Linked DNA regions of Homo sapiens. Changing the gene in region 1 together with any one later gene gives a genetic interaction. Each region holds a gene or a part of one and is shown in the gene's direction. Other genes may lie near its edges.

Evidence for each region.
Region 2: changes in MAN1A1 (region 1) and DEPDC5 together harm fitness more than expected from each alone (negative genetic interaction), as found in Homo sapiens cells (one large-scale study listed by BioGRID).
Region 3: changes in MAN1A1 (region 1) and SLC39A9 together harm fitness less than expected from each alone (positive genetic interaction), as found in Homo sapiens cells (one large-scale study listed by BioGRID).
Region 4: changes in MAN1A1 (region 1) and TRAPPC13 together harm fitness more than expected from each alone (negative genetic interaction), as found in Homo sapiens cells (one large-scale study listed by BioGRID).
Region 5: changes in MAN1A1 (region 1) and TRAPPC9 together harm fitness more than expected from each alone (negative genetic interaction), as found in Homo sapiens cells (one large-scale study listed by BioGRID).

The regions. Positions count from the first base shown.
Region 1 is NC_000006.12:119,185,762-119,189,261, reverse strand, and holds part of MAN1A1 (mannosyl-oligosaccharide 1,2-alpha-mannosidase IA), read left to right. Parts: intron 1-684; coding exon 685-857; intron 858-3,500. UniProt on the Homo sapiens protein: Involved in the maturation of Asn-linked oligosaccharides. Progressively trim alpha-1,2-linked mannose residues from Man(9)GlcNAc(2) to produce Man(5)GlcNAc(2).
Region 2 is NC_000022.11:31,904,016-31,906,300, forward strand, and holds part of DEPDC5 (GATOR1 complex protein DEPDC5), read left to right. Parts: intron 1-1,968; coding exon 1,969-2,051; intron 2,052-2,189; coding exon 2,190-2,285. UniProt on the Homo sapiens protein: As a component of the GATOR1 complex functions as an inhibitor of the amino acid-sensing branch of the mTORC1 pathway.
Region 3 is NC_000014.9:69,450,664-69,454,191, forward strand, and holds part of SLC39A9 (zinc transporter ZIP9), read left to right. Parts: intron 1-2,577; coding exon 2,578-2,646; intron 2,647-3,528. UniProt on the Homo sapiens protein: Transports zinc ions across cell and organelle membranes into the cytoplasm and regulates intracellular zinc homeostasis. Participates in the zinc ions efflux out of the secretory compartments.
Region 4 is NC_000005.10:65,656,012-65,659,539, forward strand, and holds part of TRAPPC13 (trafficking protein particle complex subunit 13), read left to right. Parts: intron 1-2,356; coding exon 2,357-2,490; intron 2,491-3,528.
Region 5 is NC_000008.11:140,433,737-140,437,264, reverse strand, and holds part of TRAPPC9 (trafficking protein particle complex subunit 9), read left to right. Parts: intron 1-2,024; coding exon 2,025-2,153; intron 2,154-3,528. UniProt on the Homo sapiens protein: Functions as an activator of NF-kappa-B through increased phosphorylation of the IKK complex. May function in neuronal cells differentiation. May play a role in vesicular transport from endoplasmic reticulum to Golgi.

The DNA.
Region 1 (3,500 bases):
AGTGTAAATAACTGGCCTTCTGTTACGAAATTACTTAGGATTGTCAACCACTAAGTTTCTGGCTAACTCAAATGGTATTTCATGGTGCCTTGTATCTGCCTGGTGGGTGCTCAGTAAATGGGGGTTAAATGAAAAAAATAAATTGTTAATATTTTCTAAAATGGACTCTTTTCAATGACTAAATTGTTTAAGTATATGAATATTATATATTACATGATGTTTATAACTCGTTTTTAAAATGACTACTTTGACATTTCTCTTCAGTGTTGTTAAAGTACAGTCAGACCTTCGTATCCCTGGGTTCCACAACTGCAGATCAGAAATGTTCCCAAAAAATGGATGGTTCTGTCTGTAGTGAACATTTATAGAGTTTTTGTTCTTATCTTTATTCCCTAAACAATACAGTATAACACCTAGTTACATAACATTTACACTGTATTAAGTAGTATAAGTAAACAAGGTGATTTAAAGTATATGGGAGGATGTACCCAGGTTGTATGCGAATACTTTGCCATTTTATATAAGGGACTCAAGGATCCATGGATTTTGTTATCCTCGGAGGGTCCTGGAACCAGTCCCTCATAGATACTGAGGGATGACTGTACTTTCTAGTTTCATTTAAGTTATTGACTGTAAGCACTGTCCAGGAAAATAACCCTTATTCATTCATTCCATGTCCTTTAGTTATGAAACTGGGACCAGAAGCTTTCAGATTTGATGGTGGTGTTGAAGCCATCGCTACAAGACAAAATGAAAAATACTACATCTTACGGCCAGAAGTTATGGAGACTTACATGTATATGTGGAGACTGACTCATGATCCAAAGTACAGGAAATGGGCCTGGGAAGCCGTAGAGGTGATGTTTTAATTTGCATGTTTCTTATAGATAAATTTCATAGTAAAAAATGTTCAGTGATACCCATAAATCAGGCTTATCAACTTTTCTATAATTTTTAATGCTTCGACCAGGATTTTTTCCACCCAGGACTGTGTATTTTCATTGAAGTCATTTTATATCCCTGGCTTCAGCTTTGCTTTGTATAACATTGATATAGATATATCTACTGATAGACTTAGATATTGAAGGAGATAACTAGAAAGGCATAGTCTAAAATTAAGTTCCCATTAATACAAAAATGATGATCTCTTAATTCCACCTAAGGGTTGTTGGCAGCTTGGGGTATTCACCTCTATTTCAATAAACCACTTCATGTTTTTTTCTGTCTTTGGGCTTTAAAATGCTAGTATATGCTTTTACTTAGAGTAAATAGCTACTTAGATCTAACTTTTAGAAAGCACTTATAGAAGAATTACTTTGTATAAGGATATTCCTTTACCAGTCTCAGGTTTCTTGGAATATCTATAAGCTTTCCATCTGCCCAGTGTGTTGTTTTGTCTGTCACCTCTTGGGTCTCTTCCTGCTGAGGATAGTATACCTCCTTCCTAAACCAATCTAGTGAATGCTTTGTGTGCCGAATGCCTGAGGAGGCAACCTGCAGGATATGCATCTAACAATGTCTGTCTAATTGTAAGAGTTATTATTCCTCAAGGAGTGGGAGGGAATTCAGGGGATAAGAACAAGCAAATTCTTTAATTACACTCTCATTCTCTAGCACTCTTTGTTAGAAAGTTAGCTATCTTTAAAAACTGTCCATGAGGAATGACTTCTCTCAGGAAATCTAAAATGAATATTGCCTTTGGTAAAATTTAACTAATATCTTAGGAAGCCATCGGTGAATCTTGCTTATTATCCTCTTCATTTAATATGTGTCTTATCATTAATCATCAGTCATTTTAAATAACAGCAATTCTCTAGGCCTCTTTGAGGGGGCAGTTTTATTACATTTAATCAGTAGTCATTGTAATTTCTTTACATTTCTGTTTTTTTCCTCTGGAGAAAATGTTAAAGTTGAAGCTTTTCTAAACTTTGGTGATAGGGAATTGTTTTGGTCTTCAATTGGCCAGCAAATGAATTGAATATTTTAAGTTGAAAATATCAGGAATGGTGTGTTCCATCAAATCTAAAACACCATAATTAGTAAGAAGCATCATTATTTTATATACCACTAAGAAAAATAACACTACCAATTAAGTTATGACATCCATTTTATAGATGTTAGAATGTACAAAATGTATGGCCGAGAAGGTATCAAAAATGGGAAGTAAGCAAATTCGTATTGCCAGGTAGACAGGATGCTTTGGTTTGCTGTGTTCTTCAGGGGGTTGCTTGTTTATGAGATCATAAGGTTGGTTTATGTGTTATGATTTTTATTTCTTGTCAACTCTTTAACATAATATATGACCTGAAATCGTTTCCCTGTGTCACAACACTGAGGTCTCAATTTTGGGGATGCCCCCAGTAACCTCTGCTAGAACCTGAGCTATAGTGGTGAGCCAGGAGTGCTGTAGGGTCTTGCATTTTTTAAACCAGAAAAACTGGGACTTCGAAGGCATGGCCGCACGTTTTTCCCCTGGTGTTATGCCCACCCCCGTGGCCTCCTGTGTTTCAGCAGCAGCCCCGCATATGCTTGCAGCTCCCACCTCCAGCACTTGGCTGTTCTGATGCATACTTGAGACCACAGCTGGAAACCATGTCAGGAAAAGAAGGTGGAAGAGCTTTTCCCTAGCCAGCTGGCTGTGGTCTGGGAAGTGCTGGGGAGTTAATGGCTGTCAACCAAGGAGGTTTTGGAGTTGGTGGATAACTGTCCCAGTCTTCTTTCCTTCAAGAATCATTCTGGAATGCATGCTACATGGTTCTTCAGAGGGTTTCTAGCAGGAGTGAGCCTCGTTGCACACAGTTGAACAATATGATTCATTGGCTCTTCTGTCCCTGTTTTGCTTTTCCCACTTGCCCACTTCCTGATGTCACCTCCCTGATAGACTTCCTGCATCCTGCGTCCAACCCTTGTCTCATGCTTTATTTTTAAGGGAACGCAAACTGAAACATAGGGGGTCTTAAAAATCACCTCATCCAGCTTTCCGCTTAAAGACAAGACTCCCCTCCATATCTTTGCAAGATAGCTGTTCCTCATCAACCCAAGGACTTTCCAGCAAAGGGGAATGTATCACCTAATAAAGTAACTCATTCCAATTGGTAATATTGAAGGTGTTAGAAAGTTATTTATTTTGAAGCCACAATTTACAGTGTTCTGTGCTCTGGGGGTACCAGAGGGAAAAAATCTCCCTTCTGCATTTCAGCTCCTCAATTATCCGAAGACAGCAGGTTCTGCCATCTCTTCCTTTCCTCATCCATCATTTCCCTTGATTTTCTTCTCCTGACCTGGTTTCCAGCTGTGGTCTTTTAGGGCTGAATAGTGTGAACCTCTCTTCTCTCTTCGCAGTGTGATTTTTTCACAGCTTATGGTCCAACTTGTTCTTTTAGTAGATTTATATTTAAAAAAAAAAAAAAAAAAAAACTGGGAGGCCAAAGTGGGTGGATCATGATCATGGTCAGGAGATCGAGACCATCCTGGCTAACACGGTGAAACCCCGTCTCTAC
Region 2 (2,285 bases), on another chromosome or scaffold:
AAGGTCCATCTCAGAAAGAGCTAAAAAAGTGTCCATCTTCCTCAGCCCCTAGGCTGTGACCTACAGCTCCTCCTTCATCTTCCTCAGCCCCTAGGCTGTGACCTACAGCTCCTCCTTCATCTTCCTCAGCCCCTAGGCTGTGACCTACCGCTCCTCCTTCATCTTCCTCAGCCCCTAGGCTGTGACCTACAGCTCCTCCTTCATCTTCCTTGGGGCAGGTGGAGATGATTATATCCCCTCCCCTGCCCTTACTGCGTTTCTGTCTTGCATTCTCCCTGAGTGGACAGTCAGGTGGCCAGGAACCATGTGGTTAAATTGCCTTTTTGTTCTTTCCTGGTGACCTAAGGAAGAAATGAGGTAAAAAAAAATTACTCTGGTAAAAAAAAATCAGGCTGATCCATGCTGAGGAAATCAGTAGCCTTAATTAGAAAGTAGAGAGAAAGCAGGCTGGGTGTGGTGGCTCACGCCTGTAATCCCAGCAGTTTGGGAGGCCGAAGCAGGCGGATCACCTGAGGTCAGCAGTTCAAGACCAGCCTGGCCAAAATGGTGAAACCCCGTCTCTACTAAAAATACAAAAATTAACTGGTCATGGTGGCGCGTGCCTGTAATCCTAGCTACTTGGGAGGCTGGAAGCACAAGAATTGCTTGAACCCGGGAGGTGGAGGTTGCGGTGAGCCAAGATTGTACCACTGCAGTCCAGCCTGGATGACAGAGCAAGAGTAGAGAGGATTTTGCAAAGGCAAAATCCAGAGCCAATCCTCATCATATAATCAGCCTGTAGACAGGGAGCTTACAGTGCATAGTAGCCTACCCATTTAGTTTGCATATTTGACTTCATGTATTCTTTGGTAAAAAATTATGGAATGCAGATTATGTAGAGGATACAACACAGCACCTCCCCAAGGAACTCAGTCCAGGAAAGAAGACAGGCATTTTCCCTTCTTTAGTTCTGCCTACATCACTGTCTCCATTATATAAACCCCTCAGACTTAGAGGGCAGGAGCCACATCTGTTACCACGTCCTTTACAGCTCTTAGCAGGTAGAACTGTAATAAATGTGCCTTATGGAAATAGAAAAACCAGGAATAGAACAAGCCATAGATGAAAAATGGCTCCTCCTGCCCATTTCCAGAGCACAGGGAAGCAGAGAGCCCCAGCTTGGCGTTCCTCTTTTTTTTTCTTTTTGAGATGGAGTCTCGCCCTGTCACCCAGGCTGGAGTGCAATGGCATGATCTTAGCTCACTGCAGCCTCCGCCTCCCGGATTCAAGTGATTCTCCTGGCTAATTCCAGAACAATCCTGGCTAATACAAAAATTAGCCAGGCATGGTGGCACATGCCTGTAATCCCAGCTACTCAGGAGACTGAGGCGGAGAATCACTTGAACCCAGGAGGCAGAGGTTGCAGTGAGCCGAGATCATGCCATTGCACTCCAGTCTGGGCAACAGTGCGAGATTCCCTCTCACCAAAAAAAAAGATAAGGACCTTCCCTGGAGGAATGGATAGCCTCGAGTATGCGGGTGGGTATGTGTGGCCTGTCAAGACATGAGGTAGATTCCAGTGAGAGGCCCAGGATGGGATGGGGGAGAACGCTCAGTGGGAAGGTCTGCTGGGATGGGTAGGGAACATGGTAGGAGGGACGGGCTGTCTGAGCAGAGATGAAGGCTGGATGAAGAGTGCAGCCGGTGGGAAGGCTTTCTTTCACTATGGTGGTAGTGACATGGTGGACCACGGAGATGACGGGCTGCTGGGTGTGAGGAGGTCTGGTAAGCCATGGTGTTGGAAGAGGTAGAGGTCAGAAAGTGGTGAGGGTGAGGACAAAAATAAGCAGCCTGCATGTGCAATCTGGAAAGAGATCTTTCCAGATCTCTGTGTCTCAGGCTGTCCGAGAGTCCTATCAGCTACATTCTCTTCCCTTGCCCCTTTAACTAAGGAGGCGCTGATTAGCATGTCTTCCTGTCCTTCCCTAGGTTTGGGTTTGTACAAGATAAATATTCTGCCTCTGCTTTTAACTTCCCTGCTGAGAACAAGCCTCAGTATATCCACGTTACAGGTGAGGAGCTACGGGCAGAGTTGGGCAGGTGGGTCCACATCCCTTTCCTTGCACCAAGCCTATGGCTGCAGAACCACCTCAGCAGGCTCCAGGAGCCCTCCTGGTGGCTGCCACACAGGCGCTCCCCTTTCTCTTCAGGAACAGTGTTTCTGCAGCTGCCCTACTCCAAGCGCAAGTTCTCAGGGCAGCAGCGGCGGCGGCGGAACTCCACCAGCTCCACCAACCAGAACATGT
Region 3 (3,528 bases), on another chromosome or scaffold:
GCTACTCAGGTGGCTGAGATGCGAGGGAGAATCATTTCAGTTCGAGGCTGCAGTGAGCTGTGATCGCACCACTTCACTCCAGCCTGGGCAACAAGCAAGACTCTGTCTCTAAAAAAATAAAAATAAAATGTGTGGGCGCAGTAGTAGCCAGTAATCCTATACAGAGAGTTAAATGTAGCTTGTGTTCCATTATTCTTCTTCCTGTTTTATCTCTGAAGTCATTATTTTTGCTGGCTTTCGTGTCTGATGACCTGGTTTTACCTATTTTCTGCAGAGTTTTATGTATTATAAAATGTCAATAAAATGTATTTATTAAATTTATGCTAAACTGCAGTCTTTATAGGTTTATAAAAACTTTCTAATTTTAAAGCCTCTAATTGTTTAAGATCCTAAGTATAACTGGATGATAAGCCTTTGTATAAAAAAAGGCCAGAGCCAGCTTGCACACAGTGTAATTTGACTGTTCCTTCCAGTTCAGGGTAGCATTGAGCTATTTGCTGGCGCAGAGTGATTAGGGTCTTTAGCTTCCCTTCTTTGCAGTGTTTTAATAGGAAAATATCATTTATTAATAAGAGGTAATATCTTACTTTACTTGTATACTTTTTCCATTGTAAACCCCTTCCTTTTGTATGCTGGACTCCTAAGAAGATTAAATCCCCTGTAACTTACTTGACTGATGTTCATCTGTCATTTTACCTGGCATTTTGATGTCCCCATCTTTTAACTTTATTTACTTGTATGTTTCCTACAAGAGCAGTAACATCTTTATTTAATACACATAAATGCTTTTTTCACTCTTCAGCAAGGATTTATTAAGTAACTATTGGGTGCCTAGTGCTGTGCTACATTCTGTCAGACATGTTAAAGGAAAAGAGAGGTAGAAAATTTAATGCTTTAGCATTTACAGTCCATCTGGGGATAGAAAACATTCAAGTGAAAATGGCTTTGTATATCTGAGGTGGTGTATAGAGGAACCTTTGAAGACTGCCTGCATAGATCACTAGGTCTAGGCAAGGGGAGAGTTGCTTTGAGCTGGAATCAATTTTTTAAATTTATTTTTAATTTTTCTTGAGACAAGGTCTTGCTCTGTCACCCGGGCTGGAGTCCAGTGGCATGAGCATAGCTTGTTGCAGCCTTAAACTCCTAGGCACAAGTGATCCTTCCACCTTAACCTCCTAGATACCTGGGACTACAGGCATGCACCACCACACTTGGCTAAATTTTAAAAATTTTGTAGAGATAGGGTCTTGTGATGTTGCCCAGGCTGGTCTCAAACTCCTGGCCTCAAGTGATCCTCCCCCATCGACCTCCCAGACTGCTGAGATTACAGGCATGAGCCACCATGCTTAGTCTTCAATTTTTTATTCTTTCTTGAGGGAAGTGGTTCTGTAGTTAGACTTTGATTGATGTCCAAGTTTTGGCTTAACAAGCTGAGAAGTTCAGTATGTGCCAAGAATTACAGGTGAGGAGACTTGGGGAAAGGAGAATAAGAAGGTTTTGTTCGATGGTGTTAAGCAAACTGGTTTAACTAGACTGGACATTGAGAAATAAGTTGGAACTAGTTGATAAAGGGCTTAAGAACCTATCTAATATAGCAGTTTGCCCTGAATTTGAAAAGCAGCAGATTCTTAAATGGTAACTGACACATCATAAGGGTGGTGGGTTTTTTGTTTGTTTGTTTTTGAGACGGAGTTTCACTCTTGTTGCCCAGGCTGGAGGGCAATGGCACAATCTCGGCTCATTGCAACTTCTGCCTCCTGGGTTCAAGCAGTTCTCCTGCCTCAGCTCCCAAGTAGCCGAGATTACAGGCGCCCGCCACCATACTCAGCTAATTTTTATATTTTTTAGTAGAAACGTGGTTTCACCATGTTGGTCAGGCTGGTCTCAAACTCCTGACCTCAGGTGATCCACCTGCCTCGGCCTCCCAAAGTGCTGGGATTACAGGTGTGAGCTACTGTGCCCGGCCAAGGGTGGTGTTTTCAAACGATGAATCTGACACGGATGTGTAAGATTAATTATATTAGGGAAAAATGAGAGTAGGGAACCTGATGCTAATTTAGGTTTGAGTGATGAAAATTTAGGTTAGGGTGATGGCAATAAAAATGTGACAGATGTTAGAATGAAGATAAAGTTGCAGGATGCTAAGGAAGAGATAGACAATGACAATTAGATTGGTCTGGAAAGAAATGATCAGAGGCCATAGATCACTTTCCTTGGAATAGTAGAGGAAGAGGATTAAGGAATAGGAGGAAGTTGGGGCCATTGGGGGTTACACATTTCAGTGATTTTTCTGTTAAGGTAGGGCTGAGTCAAATGAAGAGTTCCCTCTTAGCCACCTCTTCAGGACAGGGAAATCTTCTAAGGGTTTGAAGCAGAAAGAAAAAAGATAGTGGCCGGGTGCGGTGGCTCACGCCTATCATCTCAACACTTTGGGAGGGTGAGGCGGGCGGATCATTGGAGGTCAGGAGTTTGAGACCAGCCTGGCCAACATTAGTGAAATTCTTTCACCTCCAGACCAATGTTTGAACAGTTTCTGTCTCACATAGCTTAACGCTGTCTTTCTCATTTTCACTTTAGATCCAGAAGCAGCAAGGTCTAGCAATTCCAAAATCACCACCACGCTGGGTCTGGTTGTCCATGCTGCAGGTAGGGTTGGATTGCAGTGGAACTTCTTTGTTTTCTATCGCACAGGGGAGACCTTAGTGTTTATATTTCAGGGACCGTCCTCATTGAATGCTCTTGGACTGGCCTTTGAGGAAAAGGTTTCTTAATGAAGTCCTCCAACACAAGCACAAGCTTGGTGTGCTCAGTGTCAGGGGTTTGCAAGCTAAGAATGGTTTCTATACTTTTTAATGGTTTAAAAAAAAAAAGAGAGAGAGGAACATACTGTAGCACATGAGAATTATATAATTCAAATTAAGGAAGTTTTATTGGAACACAGCCTTGCCCATGTATTTATGTATTGTTTGTGACAGTGAATTTGATTAGGGAAAAATGAGAGTAGGGAACCTATTGCTGATTTAGGTTTGTTTGAGTGATGAAAATTTAGGTTAGGGTGATGGCAATAAAAAATGGAGAAAGGCAAATGTGACTGATGTTAGAATGAAGATAAAGTTGCAGGAGGCTGAGGAAGAGATAGACAATGACAATGATCCATCTCTTTTGTTTTTGTGCAACAGTGGCAGAATTGAACAGTTGCAAGAGACCAAATAACTGCAAAGCCTCAAATATTTACTGTCTAGCTCTTAAGAAGAAGTTTGCTCTTTTCATTCTTGGCTCTAGAATGTCATCTGGAAAAGAGCCTTGGCGCTTCTGTCCTGAACAGCTCTGTTACCAGTTTATATGCAAAACACCAGTTTAAGCAGAAGTGGTATGCAGTGGAATGCAGAGATCTTAGCATTGCTGACAGGGTACACTTTAGAATCATAACCCAAACCTAGTCCTAGTAATAGAATTCTGTCAGTGGCAAAGAAAGGCATGTGAAAGGTGGTACACTGTTACCTGGCCCTTTCTAAGTATAATATGCTT
Region 4 (3,528 bases), on another chromosome or scaffold:
AGACTGTATAATCGAAATTCATTTTCAGATGCACAGTGGTTTTAGTTTTAAGTCTGGGTCAGGTGATGATGGCCGCTTGACAAAATGAAACAGAAGAAAAGCAAATTTTCCCAACTTGGCTAAAATTTTGTTTTCAAAGTTATATTTACAATAAGCAGCATTTGCTTATATCACATTACATATGTAATAACATCAACTGCCTTAGCACTGAATTCTTAATTTTTAAAATATCAAATTGCTTTACACTAACTGTTCAAACTAACTTGATTTTCCATTATGCTGCTTGTTTTTCTTTCGTTTTATCTAAGCTCTTCCTAAATTTATGCAGAAAATTGCAGTTTTTAAATTGAAATGTGGGTCTGTGGTTATTTTTTTAAAAGCAATGGATTGATGGGATATATGTACTTTTTTTTAGAACCAGTAACCAAAAAATGCCATTAAATGATGCATTTTTTTAAACTGATAAATCATTTTATTTCTATTTTCATTTGAACACATGTCCCAAAAACTAAAGAATCTGTTTTATTTTAGATAATAGTACATTATATTATAACTTAATCATTATATTTTTGCAAATGATTTTCATTTTCTTGGTGTTAGTGTTTAAAAAGCTCAGCCAGGCGCGGTGGCTCATGCCTGTAATCTCAGCACTTTGGGAGGCCGAGGCGAGCGGATCACGAGGTCAGGAGTTTGAGACCAGCCTGGCCAACATGGTGAAACCTCATCTCTATAAAAAATACAAAAATTAGCCAGGCATGGTGGCACTTGCCCGTAATCCCAGTTACTTGAGAGGCTGAGGCAGGAGAATCACTTGAACTCAGGAGGCAGAGGTTGCAGTGAGCTGAGATCGCACCACTGCACTCCTGCCTGGGTGACAGAGTGAAACTTCGTCTCAAAATAAATAAAAATACAAAAATTTAGCTGGGCATGGTGGCACTGCCTGTAGTCCCAGCTACTAGGGAGGCTGAGGCAGGAGAATCGCTTGAACCTGGGAGGTGGAGGTTGCAGTGAGAGGAGATCTTGCCACTGCATTCTACTCTGGGCAACAGAGCAAGACTCCATCTTGTGGGGGTTGGGGGAAGCTCATAGGCCAGGCACAGTGGCTCACACCTCTAATCCCAGCACTTTGGGAGGCCGAGGTGGGTGGATCACTTGAGGTCAGGAGTTCTAGACCAGCCTGGCCAACATGGTGAAACCCTGTCTCTACTAAAAATACAAAAATTAGCTCAGTATGATATTGCGCGCCTATAATCCCAGCTACTCGGGAGGCTGAGGCAGGAGAATCCCTTGAACCCGGGAGGCGGAGGTTGCAGTGTACCAAGATCACCCCACCACACTCCAGCCTGGGTGACAGAATGAGACTGTCTCAAAAAAATAAAAAGCTCTTAAGTGGCAAATTTTTCTGGTCATAGTTGATTTTATGTTATTTATGTGTAGTAAACATATTACTATGAAACTTTTGAAAAAAATTATTGAATACCCTTAGTGTATCATTTTTCATGTAGGTTTGTTTCAAAGATAAATCAAGTTAGTCTGTTATCCTTCAATTACATGAAGGAAAATAATAACCAAATAGCATAAAATAATGTTTAGCATAATTAGGGGAATTAATTTATCTAAATTTATCTAATTATCTAATTTATCTAATTATTAAAATTACCTACTGGCAAATATTGCTAAATAGCATCAGCTTTAAAATCTGTCACTGAGGCTACAAAATACCTTTTGCCTGATTTAAAAGCTCTACGATGGTGAAGTATAATCCACATATTCTTTTTTTAGCCCTCAATATACATTTAAAATGAACTAAGAAATCACTAATGACCACTCGCAAATTGCTTTAATTTAAAAAGTTAAATCCTTCAAGATTACAAAATAGATTATTCATAGTATTAGTGGTCACTACACTATCTAAATTGGCATTAATATGACAATCAAAGTTATACTGCCATATTATAATGAAGACTTAATTATCTTAACGTAATACTGAAATTATAGGAGCATAGGTATATTCATCATACTAAAGCACATTTTAATATTTTAATACCTAATGAAAAGAAAGAGTATTTGTAAATGAAATTCCAGTTAAGTATTTTGGGATGTTAAGACAAAATATAGTTATCCTCCATCCATTGTTTGACAAGGTATCAGTTGACTAACACTTGACTTTGCCCCTGTTAATTATGATAGGGTGAAGATTTCTTTTCTTGCATTAATTGTGGTAACTTTGATTTGCAGGCATGAACTAATCACATTTGTGGTTAATATTTTTTCTTCATATAGATAAGATATTTTTGTTGAGATAAATATTTTAAATGCCACCACACCTTGGTGGATATTTTTTTCATATCCTCAGACTGATGAAGTATTTCTGGAAGCCCAGATTCAGAATATGACAACCTCACCTATGTTTATGGAGAAGGTTTCACTGGAGCCATCTATTATGTACAATGTAACAGAATTAAATTCAGTCAGCCAAGCTGGAGAATGGTAAATATTAATTTATGAAGTCTTTATCCTTGTTTTGAAAGATACATGTTTTTCTAAACATCCATTGCTCTTCAGTGGGTTTTTTTTTAATAGACTTTTTTTAAAGAATTTGAGGTTCATAGAAAAATTCATCAGAAAGTAGAGTTTCCACATACCCTCTTCCACTCCTCACAGTTTCTCTTGTTATTTACGTCTTGTTTTTTATTTTATTTTTATTTTTATTTATTTATTTATTTATTTATTTTTTGAAAGAGTCCAGCTCTATGCAGTGGCATGATCTTGATCTAGGCTCACTGTAACCTCCACCTCCCAGGTTCAAGCAATTTTGGTGCATCAGCCTCCCAAGCTGCTGGGATTACAGGTGCATGCCACCACGCTTGGTTAATTTTTTTATTTTTAGTAGAGATGGGGTTTCACCATATTGGCCAGGCTGGTCTTCAGCTCCTGACCTCAAGCGATCTGCCCACCTTATCCTCCCAAAGTGCTGTCCTTACAGGCGTGAGCCACTGTGCCTGGCCTACATCTTGTTTTAATGTGGTACATTTACTACAATTGATGAAATGATATTGACACTGATTACTAACTAATGTCTATAATTTACATTAGAATTCACACTTTTTGTTGTATGTTTTATTGTTTTTGGTTTTTGGTTTGTTTTGTTTTAAGAGACAGGTCTCATTAATGTTGCCCAGGCTGAAGTCAAATTTCTGGACTCAAACGATCTCCCAAGTATCTGGGACTATAGTCAAGCACTGTAGGTTTTGACAAATATATAACATGTATCCACCATTACTATATTATGCAAAATAGTTTCACTTTCCAAAAACTCTCCTGTGCTCCATCTTCATCCCTCCATTACATAAAAATAAAGATCCTAGCCCTTTTAATTTCATGTTTTACTATTCAAAGCATTTGGTCTTTTAAGTCTCATAAAAATCCAGTGAGGTAAATATGAATCCTATCATTGCTATCCTGCAAATAATAAAATGGAGGAATGTGAAGGAATGGTAGAGAAGTTAAAAAGAGTAAGGGTGAATG
Region 5 (3,528 bases), on another chromosome or scaffold:
TAAAAAAATCTTACTTCACCTCACTTCTACAAAACAAAATTAAAAAACATTAACTGGGTGGAGACCAGCCTGAGCAACATAGGGAGACCTCACTTCTACCAAAATAAAATAAAATAAAATAAAATAAAAAGACATTAGCTGGGCTTGGTGGTCTGTGCCTGTAGTCCCAGCTACTTGTGAGGGTGAGGCAGGAGGATCGCTTGGGCTCAGGAGGTCAAGGCTGCAGTGAGCCACGATCGCACCACTGCACTCCATCCTGAGCAAGAGTGAGACTTTGTCTCTTAAGAAAAAACCAAAATAAAACTTAAAATGGACTTAAATTTAGTTTTTTAAAGAGGCTAGGGAAATAGAAGTGGGGAAAGAAAGGGAGTAAGAATTAGGGATGGAAAAGAAAAGAGAATCAGATAAAGGATTATGCAGGCTGAGAAAGACATAGTTTTACTTGGTTTTCTTGAAAGAGCATTGTCTCCCTAAGTACTCCTTATTGTATCAATTAGAGAATCTGTGCATCTCCCAGTGGGCTCTGAGACTAGGGCATGTGCAGCAGGTGCTTCTCCAGAAAGACTGGTACTGCCCATATGCCTTCCCCATGCGGCGCTGGACTGGATGAGGAGGGCTCCTAAAGGGCACACAGAGAAGGACGGTGCTGTGTGCCGTGGGCCTCTTCCATGCTCAGCCTCTCAGAAGTGGACAGTGGAGTTGTCCACAAGCTACTTAGGCCTGACATCACAGCAGACTGAATGTAGAAGCTGATAGAAGATCCAGCTGACTTGTATTAACTCTGATATTAAAGAAATGTGTGAACATGTCAAATAATGCCATTCCTCCAGTACTTTATTTTTGTTTTGGAAAACAATTATTTTTCATAAAACTGTTAACACATGACAAGCTTATTATTTTATTTTTTATTTTTATTTTTTTGAGTCAGTCTCACTCTGTCGCCCAGGCTGGAGTGCAATGGCGTGATTTCAGCTCACTGAAACTTCCATTTCCCAGGTTCAAGCGATTCTCTTGCCTCAGCCTCCCGAGTAGCTGGGGCTACAGGTGTGTTTTATCATGCCTGGCCAATTTTTGTATTTTTAGTAGAGTCAGGGTTTCACCATGTTGGCCAGGCTGGTCTTGAACTCCTGACCTCAAGTGATCCACCCACCTTGGCTTCCCAAAGTGCTGGGATTACTGGCATGAGCCACTGCGTCTGGCCTATTTTAAGAGGAATTAATACATAAATACTTAAATCCTTTTCTCAGTTTTATTTTCCAATATGGTAAATATCTACAGGTGTAACCCACATCACAAAAAAAGCTCTTTGTGATCCTAAGTCATTTTTAAGAGCATCAAGGAGTTTTTAGACCAAAAGTTTAAGGAGCACTGAGTTAATGGATAAAGATGATAGAGATGAATACTGTGGCACACCTTCTAAGGCATGTGGCATAGCTGGAGATTATTAGGTTGTTACGTCATGAGAGAAGAACGGACTGTGTAGCGAGTTAATATGGCTGTTTTTGAGGAAGAGGGAGGACTACAACCTCAAAAGGAGCAGATGCCTATGGGGTGCATGGTCTGGAAAGGCATTCTGGTCTTGCTTTGGTGCTATTACTGTGAAATATTTTCAATCCAGGGCACTTTCTGTTATACATCTCTGTAGCTCCAGAACCTGGCGCAGTCTGCCACACAGTTTGTGCAGGAATGCCGGCCACGTGAATGGATGAACGCAGAGGCTGGCCTGTTTTACGTGTGCAGTCAGCCCTGCAGGGAAACCTTGAGTGTGGTGAGAGTGTTCTGCATTGCCTGCCTGGACATGGGCATGGGAAAGACAGGTGGCAAGTTCCCATTTGCAAAAAACTAGTGATCTTTAGGTTTGATCTTTGTTTTGGGAGAAAAATTGGCATTTCCAAATAATCCACCTGTTTAAATCATTGTTAGTTACTGCAGTTTGAGCTAATGAAGGGTCACTGACTTGACTAATGATGCTGGTTTTTGTTTTTTGTTTTCTGGTTTTTGTTTTTTGTTTTCTTAATGCCCAGCTGCCCTGGAAGGATTGTGTTCAGCTTCTGTCATCTATCACTATCCTGGTGGAACTGGTGGGAAGAGTGGAGCTCGGAGGTTCCAGGGCAGCACCCTTCCTGCTGAAGCAGCCAATAGACACCGGCCAGGTGAGCTCTGCCCTTTTTCCGGCCTCTGCTCACTTGCAGTCTTTAAATAAAGCAGACTCATTTGTTACTTTTTCCTTTGAGTTAGGACTAATATTTAAATAAACTGTAAAATCTGTTGAGTCAGTAATTTTTTTTTTTTTTTGAGACAGAGTCTTGCACTGTTGCCCGGGCTGGAGTGCAGTGGCGCAATCTCGGCTCACCACAGCCTCCACCTCCCAGGTTCAAGCAATTCTCCTCCCTCAGCCTCCTGACTAGTTGGGATTACAGGCGCCCGCCACCACACATGGCTAATTTTTTGTATTTTTAATAGAGGCGGGGTTTCACTATGTTGGCCAGGCTGGTCTCGAATGCTTGACCTCGTGATCCACCCGCCTCGGCCTCCCAAAGTGCTGGGATTACAGGCGTGAGCCACCATGCCCTGCCCAGAAATCTTGTATGAGACATTTTGTTCTGATTTTATTGAATACTTTCAATCTTACTGAATACCACTAATGGGTTAGAATGATTGGTTGATTTCTGGAATACTTGTGTAAAATTTCCTGGTAGAACAGACTTGAGGTTCTGTGTCTAAGTCTTTTTTATAATTTTATGTATTAGGAGAAGCTAGTCCCAGAGGTCAATTTTAATAAGCTGATTCAGGGCCTGGGAGCAGTTTCTTATTTTATTGGCTGATGACATTCTCTCAATGAGTTGTTTGATTTGCTTATGCTTGGTAGAACCAATGAAGAGTGAGAAAACTTCTTGGGTAGAGCAGACCCACGAATGCTGAATGAACATGAACGTTTTGGTCCTTGATGAATGAACCTGCCTTTAATGGCTCAGGATTTAGTCATCATGTTGCATAGGTCACAAAGAAGGAAGCAACAAAATAATGAAAGCAGGGATTTATTGAAAACGAAAGTACACTCCACAGTGTGGGAGTGGGCCGAGCAGCGGGCTCAAGGGCACGGATACAGAATCTTCTTGGGTCTAAATACCCACTAGAAGTTTCCCATTGGCCACTTCATGCTCACCTCTTGTAAATGAAGTGGTAGCCTGCAGTTAGTCTGATTGGTTGCGGAAAGCAGCCACTCAGAGGCTAAGGTGAAGTTACAAAGTTATGCTTCTATGCAAATGAAAAGTAGACAAAGTTATACTTCTCTGCAAACTAAGACTCCACCAGCAATCAGTCTGAGTGGTTCCGGACAGCCAGTTTCCCACCTGCCATGCAGAAAAGGTCAAAGGGAGCAGCCTCTGGTCCTTTTGTTACTTAGTCATGGAAAGTTAGGGTTTTCCTTTCAATGTAGTTGTAGGAAGTCTGTGTGAAACAACCTTAAGTTCTTTGCCTCTAGATCCTATTCTTCTGCCTCAGGCTTATCTTTTTTGTGATTGAGAA